Regions from separate parts of the Homo sapiens genome. Here region 1 is linked to region 2. The links come from fine-mapping of genetic effects on gene expression. Tissue or cell type: substantia nigra. Region 2 holds a variant in brackets; the other region holds the start of a gene. All regions are shown on one strand. Distances are from middle to middle.

Region 1 (8,132 bases), 940 kb before region 2:
GGGCCTGCCTGTGAAAAAGTTTAGCATCCAGGCCAGGCGTGGTGGCTTACGCCTGTAATCCCAGCACTTTGGGAGGCCGAGGTGGGCGGATCATGAGGTCAGGAGATCGAGACCATTCTGGCTAACACAGTGAAACCCAGTCTCTACTAAAAATACAAAAAATTAGCCGGGCGTGGTGGCGGGCGCATGTAGTCCCAGCTACTCGGGACGCTGAGGCAGGAGAATGGCGTGAACCCAGTAGGCGAAGCTTGCAGTGAGCCGAGAACGCGCCACTGCACTCCAGCCTGGGCGACAGAGCGAGACTGTCTCATAAAAAAAAAAAAAAAAGAAAGAAAGAAAAAAAGTTTAGCATCCAAAGTTGACAAGAAAAAACATTCAAAAAATAGGGTCACGTGTAAAGTAGCCAATCAGGGTGAAGAGGGCAGGTGACGGAAGGAAGGGCCATCCCACCCACCTTGCACATGGACCACACAGACCCTCATTAGCACCACGTCTGAGATGTATTTGAGAAACCACCCAGCTGGGCGCAGTGGCTCACGCCTGTAATCCCAGCACTTTGGAAGGCCGAGGTGGGCAGATCACGAGGTCAGGAGATCGAGACCATCCTGGCTAACACGGTGAAACCCCGTCTCTACTAAAAATACAAAAAATTAGCCGGGCGTGGTGGCGGGCGCCTGTAGTCCCAGCTACTCGGGAGGCTGAGGCAGGAGAATGGCGTGAACCCGGGAGGTGGAGCTTGCAGTGAGCAGAGATTGTGCCGCTGCACTCCAGCCTGGGCAACAGAGCGAGACTCCCTCTCAAAAAAAAAAAAAAAAAAAGATTCTAAGCAGTTACAAAGTCTTCAGAGTAAAGATTAGGAAGTCTCTTCTAGTCATTTTTTTCCTAATCTTGGCTTGGAAATGAGAAGTATTACTACTTGTGTGCTAAGATAATATTATTCATCCTCCTAAGTATGGTCTAGTTTGTTGTTGGTTTTTTTCAAAGTGGTTTTACACACCTACTGCCCATATTCAGTTTGTGTGAGAGGGTGGGTACTGAAGACCCAAGGTTACAGGTTGAGAAATTCAACTGGAGCAAAAAACTGAGACTACAATGCCAACAAGTGAGATTGGATGTTTTCCTATTGATATCTACAGGGAGAAATAAGTATGCATCTTTTAATGTATTTACTTATCACTTAAGTCCCAGAGAAAGGCTGGGTTAGCCACCTTTGAGGAGACAGCTGGCCTGATGTCTCAGCTGACTCAGAAGCACCACAAGGATGGCACAGAAAGTTCAGGGTAATAGATTTTTCTTAAACCTTCAAGAGAGAGCAAGTCATAAAACTCATTCGCCTTCATGAGACAGGGTTATGAACAGAAAACAAAGATCGTTATCAAATAAAAAATGAACTGGACCACAGGTGGGTACCACCCCCTAAGGTCAACACAGTGCCCTACCTGAACTTTGAACCCCAGCCAGGAACTGCTGCCGGGGCTGTGAGGACCAGGAAGGGGCCACACCACCCAGGGATGGAGGTGGAGAGAATCAGATCACTGCTCTGAGGACGCCTTGCACAGCACCAACAGGAAGCAGGCGGCTGGGCTCCCGCACAGCTAGGACAAATGAGGAGCTCTGGATTCTAACCACCCGGCAAACCACTTACCACTGTGTGCCTCGGTTTCCCCATCTTTACAGTCAGAGGGTCAGACGAACCAGGCTGCCTACAGCCTCCTCCTGCTCTGCACTTATCTCCAGGAATGGGGTGAAGTCCAGGCACCCTTTCACAGAGGCTCTGTGAGCATGCAGCCTCCTGGGCCCCATGCACCTGCCGTCTCACCCCACCCTCTGGGCGGCAGTGGGCACAGCCCTGAGGGACGCCACAGTGAATCTGAACGCTGCCACTGTCTGAGTGCCAGCGCAAGCCTGCGCCTCAGGTTTCTCCAGAGGGAGTAAAACCTCAGGGCCTGCTCTTGCTGTCACCTGTGTGGGATACTGCAAATGGCAGGAGTGTGGAGGCAGCTGAGGGGGGGGCTCCAGGATGAGCAGGACCTGGTGAAGGAACAAGGGCCCTTGGGTGGGGCACAACGGCCCCCACCCCTCGTGGCTCTGTAGCTTGCTTCTGTCTGGCCTTGCCCTGGCCCTTCCTGGTCCTCCACATAGGCCTGCTCATGCAAACCCACAGCTCTCAGGCCTGGAGAGAGTGCGGCAAACACACAGCCTGCCTCTGCCCCCCGGCAGGGTACCAGCTTTTGGGGTCATATCACATGCTCCAAGCCAGCACTCCAGCTCTCCAGGGAAGAAATCACTTTCGGTTTTTTTCGTAAAGGGTAAATAATCACTTAAGCTCACCATTCTCACTAACTTCAAGTATCTTTCTAGGGCTTAATTGTTGGTTCTGGTTGATGGTTAAGAATAGAAACACCAAGCAGGTTGTCCCCCCAACTTTACACACCCCTTCCTCTCCCAGTTAAACCCAGGAATTTAGTGTCAGTTCAGACGCCAAGTGAGGCGCAGCCCCCCACCTTCCACCCAGGAGAAAATGCCCCAAGGGGACGCTTCTGTCTCCTTTCCTGCTGAAGGCAGGGGAGGAGTCGCCCCAGCAAAGGCCAGCTCCGTGCTCCCTGAGCCACCGGCCCAAGTCCCTCTCCCGGAGGAAGCCAGGCCACTGGGGAGCAGCCCGCTCCGCGCTGGGAGAGGCGTCAGGTGGGGGGGTCCGGGAGGGGAACGTCCAGGGCCGGGGAGGGAGAGGAAGGAGGGAGAGAAGGAGGGAGGAAAGAGAGAGGGAAAGAGGGACGGAGAGTGGGAGGGAGGGAGCTCCGGGTCCCGCAGAGAAGGGGATCTCCCGCTCCAGAACCGGTCGCAGCCTCTCCGCCGGGACCACCCCCACCCAGGGGGCGGGACGGACGCCCCAGACCGCGGTCCCCGCCGGCTGCCCCGCCCCCGGCCTCACCCGCGGCCTCGGGCTCCCGCGCCCCGACCGAGCCGTCCCCGCGCAGCAGGAGGTCCCCGGTATCCCGCAGGCGCCGGCCCGGCGAGCCCCGCAGCCCGCGGCAGCCCTGGAAGCACACGGCCCACGCCTGCTCCTCGTTGAGCGGCTGCTCGTAGGCCTTCAGCACCTCCTCCAGGGACAGCTCCCAGGGCTCCGGCCGCCCTGCGCCCGCCGCGGCGCCGCCGCAGCTGCCCGCCCGGGCCATGGCGGGGCCGTCATCGCCTCCCGCGCGCCGGACCCGCGTCCATGCAGCCGCGCCTTCCGCCGCGCAGGGTCAGCCTGGCCGCCCCGCCCCGCGCGAGCGCCTCAGGTTGGGGGCGGGGCGGCGACGGGGGCGGGGCGCGGAGGGCGCGGGGGGCGGGGCGCGGAGGGGGAGGGACGCGGGGCGGGGCGGGGAGTGGAGGGCGCGCGGGGAGAGGCCCGGAGGGGGACGGGTGAGGGGCAGGGCGGGGCGCGGGTAGGTGCGGAGGGGCTGGGGCTCAGGGCTGGGGACGCGGGGGCGCGGGGCCGAGGCCGGGGTGCGAACCCCTCCGGGGTGCTGGGCAGGACCGGGGGGAGGGTTGGGGGCTGCAGACATGGGCCAGGGCCCGCGCGCTCGGACACGCGGTGACACCCCCGGCGCTCCCCCGCAGACCCAGACGGCCGATGCCCACAAAAGCCCGGGCCGGCATCCAGCCCGGGACACTGCGGTGACCGCGGGGGGCCTGGGAGGTTTGCCGCTGGGAACGCGGGAGGGAGCCGGGAGGAGCTGAGCAGACAAAGCCCGCAGTGGCCTCCCCGAGCCCCGGGCAAGGTGACCTCCAGGGGTTGTCGCAGGGTGGCTGGGGTGAGGGCGACTCCCCGCATCCGGCCTTCGGGTATGAAGCCCTTAATAAATGCCTCTGCCTAGCAGGGAATGTGCCTGCAGTGACGTCTCCAGGGTGTCCGTGAAAAATAAACACACACGGTTGGCCAGTGATGGCGTGCATCGCATTTGGGGCGTGTTTGTGTCTTCAGGCCGGGTCACTCCTGGACACTGGGTGTTTGCCTGAGGGACGCAAGGGGAACTCGGCTGGGGCTCATCCCGAGGCCTCTTCATAGTTGTGCCAGATCTGAATAAGTGGGCAAGAAAATGCAGTTGGGGCATAAACGGTCCCAAGCCTGGGTGCTGCCAGTACCACCCGGGGGCAAGAAATGCAGATTCCTGGGCTCCAGGGCTGGAGATTCTGATGCAGGTCCGAGGTGAAACTTGGGGCACTTAAAGTTCGCTGGTCTCCCAGGAGTTCTGGACCTGCCTGGACAACACAGTGAGATCCCATCCCAGAAAAGAAGTTCCACAATGATTTTTTTTTCTTTTTTTTTTTTTAGAGACAAGGTCTCACCCAGGCTGAAGTGCAATGGTACAATCGTAGCTCACTATAACCTCAAATTCCTGGGGTCAAGTGATCCTCCCACGTCAGCTTCCTGAGTAGATGGGACTAAAGGCATGAACCACCACGCCCAGCTGATTGTTTTTATTTTTTGTGGAGATGGGATCTCACCATGTTGCCCAGGCTGGTCTTGAATTCCTGGGCTCAAGCAGTCAGGCCACCTTGGTCTCCCAAAGTACTGGGATTACAAGCGTGAGCAACCGCGCCCAGTCCAGCTGGACTTTTCTTTTCTTTCCCTTTCTTTTTTTTTTTTTTGAGAAGGAGTTTTGCTCTTATCGCCCAGGCTGGAGTGCAGTGGCGCAACCTTGGCTCACTGCAACCTCTACCTCCCAGATTCAAGCGTTTCTCCTGCCTCAGCCTCAAAGTAGCTGGAACTACAGGCGCCCACCACCACACCCGGGTAATTTTTTGGGTGGTTTCGCCATGTCGGCCAGGCCGGTCTCGAAATCCTGACCTCAGGTGATCCCCCTGCCTCAGCCTCCCAGGGTGCTGGGGTTGCAGGCATGAGCCATGTCGTCCCGTCCAGCTGGACTTTTCATCTGTAAGCAGAAAGGAGGCTGATGATGACGAATTGTGCCTAAAGTTTGTTTGTTTGTTTGTTTTGAGGCAGAGTCGCGCTCTGTTGCCCAGGCTAGAGTGCAGTGACGCGATCTCTGCTCACTGCAAGCTCCCCTCCCAGGTTTACGCCATTCTCCTGCCTCAGCCTCCTGAGTAGCTGAGACTACAGGCGCCTGCCACCACGCCCAGCTAATTTTTTGTATTTTTTTAGTAGAGACGGGGTTTCACTGTATTAGCTAGGATGGTCTCAATCTCCTGACCTCATGATCCGCCCGCCTCGGCCTCTCAAAGTGCTGGGATTACAGGCATGAGCCACTGTGCCCAGCCATGCCTAAAGTTTTTATAATCAACAGCGGGGCAACATTCACATCTTTTGTTGGTTCCCCAAGCTAAAACACAACCAAAAGTAACAGGAGTGGGCTGGGCACGGTGGCTCATGCCTGTAATCCCAGCACTTTGGGAGGCCGAGGCAACCCGATGGCTTGAACCCAGGAGTTCGAGACCTGCCAGGGCAACATGAGACCCTATCGCTACAAAACTTTAAAAACATTAGCCAGGTGTGGAGGTGTGTGCCGGTGGTCCCAGCTACTTGGGAGGGTAAGGCAGGAGGACCACTTGAGCCTGGGAGGTCGAGGTTGCAGTGCGCTGTGATTGCACCACTGCACTCCAGCCTGGGTGACGGTGAGACCCTGTCTCTAGTAAATAGATGCATAAAGACTAATAGGCGCAGTGGGGTTTTGCAGAAGGAAAATTGGAGATGAGCGGGGTGGGGATGGGGTGCCATGCCCTGAATACCATGTACCACAAACCTGGCACTCAAGCAGATCTCCCCTCCTGATTTGTCCCTGCCACCCGCAGCATGGGTACCAACGATGGGTAAGTTAGGAATTTCAAGTTCTGGCTTAGAAGAGCAACAGCAGAAAACCTTCCATGAGGCATCTTATTCCACAGGAGCAGCACGCTCTACATTCGTGGTAACCAAAGTCCCTGGCCCACACACTGCCAGGTGTGTGATGATGGGGAATTGTTCTCTGCTGATGTCTGAGGCTGATCCTTGGTCCCACACACAGGGTGGTTTCTCCCTTCAGAATGCACGGGGATAAAGACTTCCATTTGTGGCCGAGCGCGGTGGCTCACTCCTGTAATCCCAGCACTTTGGGAGGCCGAGGCGGATGGATCAAGAGGTCAGGAGATTGAGACTATCCTGGCTAACATGGTGAAACCCGTCTCTACTAAAAAACACAAAAAATTAGCCAGGAGTGGTGTCGGGTGCCTGTAGTTCCAGATACTGGGGAGGCTAAAGCAGGAGAATGGCGTGAACCCAGGAGGCGGAGCTTGCAGTGAGCCGAGATCGCGCCACTGCACTCCAGCCTGGGCGACAGAGCGAGACTCCATCTCAAAAATAAAAAAAGAAAAAAAAAAAGACTTCCATTTGCAACACCCCACTGAGTAGGTCTCACTGCTTCTTGCCAGAAGTCAAGGTGGGGGACATTGCTCTCACCACGACTGGCCACCACCCCAGAGCACTCTTTGGACGTGCAGCCTCATCACTGCCACAGTGCAGCACTGGCCGGGGACATTTGAGCAGAAGATGGTAATTACCCTAATGGGAAGCTGGCTGGGGCACAAGGGGACCTTCTCTCTTCCTCAAAGGGCCTCACGTGTCCCTTACCGACCACAAGGTTTTAGGGTGTAATTTGTGAGCTCAGTCCTCCAGCCACTGCTGCATCCTGGCAAGGACCTAGTGCTGACTCACCTGGCTGAACAGTGACCCTTGAGGTCACGTGAGTGGGGTACAGTGACCCTCTCTGAACTGGCATCCACCATCCTACCTGGGATCCCTATGGACTCACCAGCAGGACTTAGAACACTGAGATTTTAGTAAAAAATTTTAAAAGTTAGGGCTGGGCACGGTGGCTCAAGCCTGTAATCCCAGCACTTTGGGAGGCCAAGGGGGCAGATCACGAGGTCAGGAGTTCCAGACCAGCCTGGCCAATATGGTGAAACCCCATCTCTACTAGAAAAATAATTAAAAAAAAAAAAATTAGCAGGGCGTGGTGGCACATGCCTATAATCCCAGCTACTCGGGAGGCTGAGGCAGAAGAATTGCTTGAACCCAGGAGGCGGAGGTCGCAGTGAGCCGAGATCGCACCACTGCACTCCAGCCTGGGAAACAGAGCAAGACTCCATCTCAAAAAAAATAAAAAGAAATAAAACATGGCCGGGCATGGTGGCTCACACCTGTAATCCCAGCACTTTGGGAGGCCGAGGCAGGCAGATCACAAGGTCAGGAGATCAAGGCCATCCTGGCCAACACGGTGAAACCCCATCTCTACTAAAAATACAAAAGGCCAGGCACAGTGGCTCACGCCTGTAATCCCAGCACTTTGGGAGGCTGAGGCGGGCAGATCACGAGGTCAGGAGATCGAGACCATCCTGGCTAGCACGGTGAAACCCTGTCTCTACTAAAAATACAAAAAAATTAGCCGGGCGTGGTGGGGGGGTGCCTGTAGTCCCAGCTACTCGGGAGGCTGAGGCAGGAGAATGCCGTGAACCTGGGAGGTGGAGCTTGCAGTGAGCCAAGATTGCGCCACTGCATTGCAGCCTGGGCGACAGAGCGAGACTCTGTCTCAAAAAATAAATAAATAAAAAATAAAAATAAAAATACAAAAATTAGCTGGGCATGGTGGCACATGCCTGTAGTCCCAGCTACTCAGGAGGGTGAGGCAGGACAATCGCCTGAATCCAGGAGGCGGAGGTTGCAGTGAGCCGAGATCACACCACTGCACTCCAGCCTGGTGACACAGTGAGACTCTGTCTCAAAAAACAAACAAACAGAAAAAGGGACTCAACGAGAAGCACTGTAGAGATTGATGTAGGTCAGTCATTAAGTCAGCTTGGAAAGCTTTAGAGCAGGGGTGTCCAATCTTTTGGCTTCCCTGGACCACACTGGAAGACGAATTGTCTTGAGCCACACGTAAAATACACTAACAATAGCTCTGTGCATAAATCTCACAATGTTTTAAGAAAGTTTAAGAATTTGTGTTGGGCTGCATTCAAAGCTTTCCTGGGCCGCATGCAGCCCACAGGCCGCGGGTTGGACAAGCTTGCTTTAGATCAAGGCCATTTCTACAGTTATGGATTGCCTGCATCTAAAAACATGCTCCTTGTCCTTCATTTCCAGTAGATTAGGA
Region 2 (8,000 bases):
CCGGAAGGACAGATGGTCAGCATGCTAAGGGCCAGCTCAGCTGCCCTGGGCGGGCCCAGGGCTCCTGCTGTCATCCTCAGCGCTACTGTCCTTGTGTCTCATCATTGTTGCCGTCACTTTTGACATTGTCACCTTAGTCGCTGCTTCCCTCACTGTCGCCGCCGTCTGGGTTGTGTTGTCACCATCACCTTTGTGTCCTCATGTCCGCTTCCCTCCTGCAGTGATGAACGGCAGCAGCCACTCACCAACAGCCATCAATGGTGCACCGTGCACACCCAACGGCTTCAGCAATGGCCCGGCCACCTCGTCCACAGCCTCCTTGTCCACACAGCACCTGCCCCCAGCCTGCGGGGCCCGGCAGCTCAGCAAGCTCAAGCGCTTCCTCACCACACTGCAGCAGTTTGGCAGCGACATCTCCCCAGAGATTGGGGAGCGCGTGCGCACACTGGTGCTGGGCCTGGTGGTGAGTTGGGCAGGGACAGCCGGGGCCTTGGGACATGCATATTCCCTCCGTTTAATGAGGTTGCAGCCACGGCCACTCCTTACATGGGCTCCACGCTGACAACCGGGCGTGGACCCGCTCCCACGATGCCACCTGCACCCTCTCAGGCCGTGCCCAGCTCCTGGGCTGCCTGCCTGCCTCCAACACGGAAGCCTCCTCCTCAGGCATGGGTGGGTCGGCGCTGGCTCACATGCCGAGCGGTGCTGATGTGAGGTGGGTTTTCTCCCCTGCAGAACTCGACATTGACGATCGAGGAGTTTCATTCCAAGCTTCAGGAGGCCACCAACTTCCCTCTGCGGCCGTTTGTCATTCCCTTCCTGAAGGTAATGCGAAACCCGTCCCCCGTGCTGCGGGAGCCTCCCTAGAAGGCCCCTTAATCCCACTCCTTGCCAGCGTGGACAGCGGTGGACAGGCGGGAAGGGGCTTAAGTGGCCAGATAGGCAGGTGGATGAAGAGGTGTGAGGCATCGATCTTGGCCAACCTGGGACCCTGTGGTACCCTAGGGGAGCACTGCTGACTAGTCAGGGTTGACTCCTACTAGTTAAGGCCTGAAAATTAGTTGCCAGACCGGATGATTATCAGCCCTTAAATCCAGCACAGGACAGAGCTGTCCGGTTCGCCTCTGGTTGCCGTTGGCCGAATGTGCTCGCTCACTCCACGGGTGATTTTTGAGCACTGACGACGTGCCAGTGTGGGGGCAAGGCTCGGGGATAGGGCCCAGGACATGCAGCAGGTCCCTCCTGGAGCCAGCACCCTGGGGTGGGAAGGCGTTCGGTCCACAGCCACTCTCAAATCTGCAGCTGCACGTGGTGGAGAAGTATTCCGAAAGTCCTTTGCTTGGAGGCGTGTTGGTGAGGGCTGAGGATGAGGGCGGAGCTAGGTGCAGAGCCAGCGCAGGGTTTTCCAGACAGCAGTAACTGCACGTGCAGAGGCCCTGAGGTATGGGGCGCCCGCTGTGCTTGAGGAACAGCAGAGGGGTCAGTGTGACTGGAACAGAATACGTGGGGTGGAGAGAGCAGAGGTGAGGGCGGGAGGTGAGGGCGGTAGACAGGCGGGAAGGGGCTTCTGTGGCTGCGCAGGCCGATGGATGAAGAGGTGTCAGGTGAAAGCAGGTCAGATGGTCACACCCAGATCAACCGTGGACCAGGGTGGCAGCACGCGGGGCTTGTCAGCTTTGCAGGCTCTCGGCCCGGCCCAAACCTGCTGAATCAGAGCCTGCATTTTTAAAGATGCCAGTCTGAGGAACGGGGATTGCTTGAGGCCAGGAGTTCAAGACCAGCCTGGGCAACACAGCTAGACCCCATCTCTACAAAAAATATAAAAATTAGCTGAGCGTTGTATGCACCTATGATCCCAGCTACCCGGGAGGCTGAGGTGGGAGGATTGCTTGAATCCAGGAGGTCGAGACTGCAGTGAGCTGTGATCACGCCACTGCACTCCAGCCTGGGCGACAGAGCAACACCCTGTCTCTGAACGAATGAATGAATGAATGAATGAATGAAGCCAGTGATTCCCATGGGAGAGTGATTCCCACGCACACACAGACGGGACGGGCACGGGAGTGCCGTGGAGTCAGACTGCCATCTCTGCGGGTCTCCATTTCCCCAAGACGGCTGCACATCTCTAGCAGGAGCTGAGGAAAGGTTCCCCAAATGTGTCTGACCATGTGACCTTCTCTGCCGAGCACGTGTTGGGGTCAGGGTTCCGTGGAGCTTAGTTGGGAGCTGCCAGCCTGGCCACACCTTCGGGCCCAGCCTGAGCACTGCCCGTACTGCTGTGGGCTCCATCTCTGCTGGGCCAGGCCTCCCCTCGGGGGTCCAGAGGACAGACCAGACCAGATGCTCCCTGGCTTGAGCCCGAGCCTGCCACTTAGCAGCTGTTGGCCCCTGGGTGAGGCCAGTTCCTCTGTGCTTCGGTTTCTGTATCTGCAAAATGGAATCATCCTCAGGCTGTTGAGGAGACAGCGTGGAGGGACACGCGGAAAGAACGGGGCCTCACTCCCGGGCTCAGGGGAATCTTCCACCTCAGCCTCCCAGGTAGCGGGGACTACAGGGAGGTGAGGCATGTTCTAGATTCACGCGGGGCATCGTCCAGGGATTTGAAACGTCCCCTGGAGGAGGAGGAATCGCGGGGCATCGTCCAGGGATTTGAAACGTCCCCTGGAGGAGGAGGAATCGCGGGGCATCGTCCAGGGATTTGAAACGTCCCCTGGAGGAGGAGGAATCACGGGGCGTCGTCCCTGGAGGAGGAGGAATCGCACGGCGTCGTCCCTGGAGGAGGAGGAATCGCGGGGCGTCGTCCCTGAAGGAGGAGGAATCGCGGGGCGTCGTCCAGGGATTTGAAGTGTCCCTGGAGGAGGAGGAATCGCGGGGCATCGTCCAGGGATTTGAAGTGTCCCTGGAGGAGGAGGAATCGCGTGGCGTCGTCCCTGGAGGAGGAGGAATCGCGGGGCGTCGTCCAGGGATTTGAAGTGTCCCTGGAGGAGGAGGAATCGCGGGGTGTCGTCCCTGGAGGAGGAGGAGTGCTTCAGGAAGGTCTCTCACAGACCTGTTGGCCTCTGTCAAGGTGTAGTGTAGGCACTGCCATGTTCCTGATTAACAGGTGGGGAAACTGAGGCTCTGGGTTCCCCCCAGGTAGTGGAGAGAGGGCGCCAGGGCTCAAACCTAGGTCTGTCAAATTCCAAACGCCCTGGTCGTCCCAGGGCACTTACAGGGTCAGACCCTCATTCCCCTCAGTCCCTCCCCAAGGGGACCCCACATCACACCCACCTCTGTT[C/A]CCACCCTCGCTCCCTCCCTCCCGCCCCTGCCTCCTCTGCTTTTTCCTGCCCTCCCTCCCTCCGCTGCCCCAGTCCTCCCTCCCTCCCACCACCCCCTCCTTTCCTCCTGCCCTCCCTCCTCTATCGCTCCATCCCTCCTCCCGCCTTCCTCCGCCCCCTCCCACGCCCTGCTGTGCTCATGCTCCCAGATGGTGACAAAAGAGAAGCTTCTGGAGTGGCAGGAGCCTGGGCCCATCTGGCGTCGTTTGCAGTTCGTTAGCGGCCCTTCCCTTCCCTTCTTTTAACTTGCTGCGGACTCCACCCCTCCCAGTCTTTGGGGACACAGTGCGCCTGCTTATTACCAACAGATGCCCCCAGCCTCAGCCACCCTTGCTTAACTGAGGATCAGGGTCAGGCAGAGAAACGCCGCAGCATCCCCACCCTTGCCCCCACCAGGCCTACGGCCCCTGTCCATGACGTCTGGTCAGGCCCTGGTGTCCCCCGGCCACGCCCCAGCAGGTGCCGCCCGCGGCCCGGCTCTCGTGAGGGCCGTGTCCACCTCAGTCTCCCCTTGGTACACAGGGGATCCCACGGCCTGTGTGGGGTAGCTGGAGCTCAGGGCCAGCCCACCTCGTGCCCCCACCCGGGGCCCGGGGCCAGTGGGACATGAAGTCTGTTCACCTCTCTGACATGGCGCTTCTAGGGGGAGGCCAGGAGGATTCAAAAATAAAAAATAAAGATCTTGCGGCCAGTCCTGCTTCCAGGTCTTGTGGCTCAGATACAAGCCAGAACCCTGGCCCTACTGTCACTGTCCCACCCAGGGAGCAGCCCCCACCCCACCCCTCCCACCCACCCCACCCCACCCCACCCCCTCCCACCCCACCCCACCCCTACCCCACCCCCACCCCACCCCTCCCCCACCCACACCCTTCCCCCACCCCACCCCTCCCCAACCCCACCCGCACCCCCCCAACCCCACCCACACCCCTGCAGGGCCGCAGCCCCTTCAGACACAGAGTGCAGTGGGGGAGTCCGACCTTCCCAGGCCAGACAGGAGGTGCCGAGTGGGAGTGACCCCCAGCCAGTCCCCTTGGGCCTCGGTGTTCCTGACTGTGGCCTGGGCTGGGGGAGGGGTAGCACCTTCCCAAGACATCCACAGCCCGCCAGGCCCAGTCTGGGGTACTCTCACGCAGTCCTTGAAGACATCATCCTAGAAACGGCAGGAATCGTGGCTGAGGGGCCGGAGAGAGTGGGGGCCTGCTTGGCTGGAACCCCAGCCCTGGCTTGGGCCCTCTCTCTCGTAGTTGGGGTGGTGAATCTCCCTCACGGGGTGGTGGGAAAGGACTGAGCTGATTCACCCGGAGCTCCCCGGAGTCTGTCTCGGCCAGAGGCTCCACAGCGCTAGTTTGCAGATACAGCAAGGGTCAGAGAGGTTAAATGACCAGCCCAAGGCCACAGCCCCTCTATGGCAGAGCCCACGGTCAGGGAGGCTTTAGCTGGGTGCTTGGCAGAGCAGCGGAGTCCGCGAAAGCCCTTGTAGCTCAACTAGTGCCTCAGCCACCGCCGCCGTCATTGCAAACACCAGTTCCCCAGCCTGAGCGCCCATCTGTGCAGAGGGCAGCTTCAGAAGTTCTGCAGGCAGAACTTCCGTTCAGTGGTGGAGTTGGGGCATTTTGACCAGCTCAGTGTGTGTAGCATTTTAGTGGTGACACCTCCCCGGGTGCCCTGGGCTCCTGGGGACAGAGTGGGGACACTGCCTTGAAGGAGGCACTGCCGGAGGTTCCCACAGTCCCCACCCCATTCCGCAGGCCTTGAGGAAACATTCCCTGCTTGCCGAGGGCTGCTGTGCATCCGGCCCCTACGCTGATGCTGCCCAGTCCTGGGTTCTCTGCACCCTTTCCTGAGCCTGCCCCACACGCAGCCCAAGGGTCAGGCCTTCCAGAAGCTGGGGGATGCAGCCCCACCCACCGCCCCGGCTCCCAGCTGGCCTCAGCTGGCCCCAGCCAGCCAGGGATCCAGATGTTCTCCCCGCCCTAACAGCGACCAGCCGGTTCCCGAACTGACCAAGAGGAGGCCCCTGGGGAGGGGCTGATGAGGGAGGGAGGATGTTTGGCTCCTCAGACCTCCCGGGACCTCGTTTCCCAGCTCATGCTCCTGATGTCCTCAACAGATGGCCGGTTGGCCCCTGTTCAGCCATCCAAAGAGAAAAACAGGCCGGCAGCCGGCACTGCTCGAGGGCCTGGTGGATGCACTCGTGGGGAATGGGGAGGCGCTGGCAGGAGAAGGCGGCGTGGCAGCTTTGAAACGCATGAGAAAGTTGGGGAATTGGATTTATTTACAAATGCTTAGAACCGCTGGCTCTCCCAAGTGGCCTGCTGCTGGGCCCTGGTCCAGCATGCTCAGGGTCCAGCACGCCTGTCCGCCCTCCCGCGGCAGCTCTGGGAAGACTTTGGGGAAGGCACCCGAGGAGCCCGGCTTGCGGCCCAGCAGTGCCAGCCTGGAGCCAAGGACGAGGCGGCGGGCGCCGCGGGTACACACAGGCGTCAAAGGCAGGGTCTGCATACGGATCCCGTACACCGGGCCGTCCTTCGGCCGCATGCTGCGGAGTCTTTACCCGCACACGTGGGTCTTGAGGCCGTCCTCACCAAGGCTGGAGGATCACTTGAGCAGCCACAGAACGTGGGTGTCCACGTCCTAGGTCCACGCTCCATCAAGGCCAAGGCTGGAAACCAGCGGGAAGGGAAGGGGAAGCTGAACCTCAGGGCTTCCCATCAGGGCTGGAGCAGACACACTGCAGGCAATCCCAGCTGGGTTTCACTCCCAGCTCCCTCGTGTGAGCCGCCTGTAGGCCCAGGGCTGCCTCCCCCTCTCTGAGCCTGCATTTCCCCAGCTGTGTTGGGTCATGTGGTGCCTGCTGGGCAGGGCGGGTGCAGGCGGGAAGACCAACCATGATCTGCTGCCCCTTCGTCCTCTCGCCTTCTCCAGACCACGCCATGGGAGGGAGCTGGGTGCGGTGGGAAAGCCCCACCCTGGGAGTCCAGGATCTGGGCTCAAGTCCCACATGCCCCACATCGCCGTGTGGCCCAGGTGAGGCACTCCTGCGAAGCTCTGTGCCCACCCTCCCACGCCACCCTCCCATGGCACTGCTAGGAAGGAACTTGAGGCCCAGAGAGGTCGAGCACCTTGACCTTTGAGGCCCGAGGTCAAGTTGAGCTTTCGGCCACCCAGCCCAGGCCCCCTCTGCTCGGACCTGAGCAGGGCTGTGCACCCCTGCATGCTACCCAGGCCCTCCTTCCCCACCCCACAGGCAAACCTGCCCTTGCTGCAGCGGGAGCTCCTGCACTGTGCACGCCTGGCCAAGCAGACGCCCGCCCAGTACTTGGCCCAGCATGAGCAGCTCCTGCTGGACGCCAGCGCCTCCTCCCCCATCGACTCCTCAGAGCTGCTACTGGAAGTCAACGAGAACGGCAAGAGGAGGACGCCCGACAGGTACCTGTGGGCTCCGGGGATCTGGGCTGGGGGTGCCGTGGACACGCGGCTCACCCTGCTCCCCTCTGGGTAAGAGAGGGAACCTCCTCTGGGGCTGCAGCCAGCCCGGCCGGCTCTCTCGGGCTGAGGGAGCGTGGCGAGGTGTACTAGGGCCAGCAGGCTTGGTGGCTGCACGGGCGGACACCCCAGTGGGCTGCAGACTCAGATGCTCCGGGGAGCCTAGGAGGACAGGGAGGAGGCTGGTGGGAGGACGGCTCTCCCCTGTGTGCCGGGCATGGACTCCGAGCGTCCGGGGTCCATGGTCCCCAGGTGCCTGGGCTGGGCCCCCTCTGCTGCCCCAGACGCTCTTGTGCTGCTGCTGCCCAAGGGGCAGGTGGTCTCCAGTTACGGAAGCCTGGTGTATCCCTCTCCTCGTTCCCAGAGCAGCGAGTCCGGCTCTTTGACCACCAGGCCCCAGGATGCCATGCAGCTGGAGCAGGGGTTGAGGCTGGCATGGGCCCCGGCAGAGGGGCAGAGAGTGGGGGCGCCGGGCTGGGCTTCCCGGGGCTGGTGTTTTGCTCCGTGTTTCTGTCTCGCCCTTACGTGTCCTCTTTCTCTCTGCCCTTGCCTGTCTGCCTCTCACCCCACCTGCACCTCTGTCCCCGGTTCATCCTATGTCCACTGCCCTCGCCCCACCTGCTCTTGGGGCTAGGACCAAAGAGAACGGGTCAGACCGCGACCCGCTGCACCCCGAGCACCTCAGCAAACGGCCATGCACCCTGAACCCTGCCCAGCGCTACAGCCCCAGCAACGGGCCACCGCAGCCCACACCGCCGCCGCACTACCGCCTGGAGGACATAGCCATGGCCCACCACTTCCGAGATGCCTACCGCCACCCAGACCCCCGGGAGCTACGAGAGCGCCATCGGCCGCTTGGTGAGCAGCCCGGTGGGGCGGGAGCGTGGACGCGTGTTACAGGAGCACACATGCGCCCACATGTACACCTGAGCATGTGGGCACAGGGCACCACGGGCAGCTGTGTGCACCTGAGCTCGGGAGACCCCTTCCCCCTGCCTGGCATTCCCCCTGGAGCAGAGCGGTGGCTGCAGAGGGGCCTGTCCTGGGCCCTGAACCCACCTCTCCCCCCGGGGTGGGCGGCCTCGGGCCTGGAACTGCCCACGTGGTTCTCATCCGAGCTTGGCGATTCCCACAGTCCACCCACAGGTGAGTCACGTGGCTCTCTGCTTCTCAGTTTCCTCCTCTGTCACCTGGGCC

The links. PIP is the estimated chance that this variant, and not a neighbour inherited with it, causes the effect.
Region 1: SPIRE2 starts here. The variant in region 2 is fine-mapped to the expression of SPIRE2 in substantia nigra (GTEx, PIP 0.97).

Annotation. Positions count from the first base shown.
Region 1 is chr16:89,823,595-89,831,726 of GRCh38, reverse strand. SPIRE2 (spire type actin nucleation factor 2) reads right to left here and starts at 3,252. Exons shown (of 15, transcript NM_032451.2): 1 at 2,933-3,252. The coding sequence starts at 3,176. RefSeq lists a silencer at 3,109-3,198.
Region 2 is chr16:88,884,707-88,892,706 of GRCh38, reverse strand. CBFA2T3 (CBFA2/RUNX1 partner transcriptional co-repressor 3) reads left to right here. Exons shown (of 12, transcript NM_005187.6): 4 at 222-463; 5 at 736-825; 6 at 6,565-6,746; 7 at 7,438-7,661. LOC101927793 (a long non-coding RNA gene) reads right to left here. Exons shown (of 3, transcript NR_135194.1): 2 at 7,863-8,000; 3 at 5,571-6,965. Among named protein-coding and RNA genes, the nearest start is that of PABPN1L, 22 kb to the right of the region's middle. RefSeq lists an enhancer at 1-492. The variant C/A (reference allele first, on the strand shown) is at 3,278.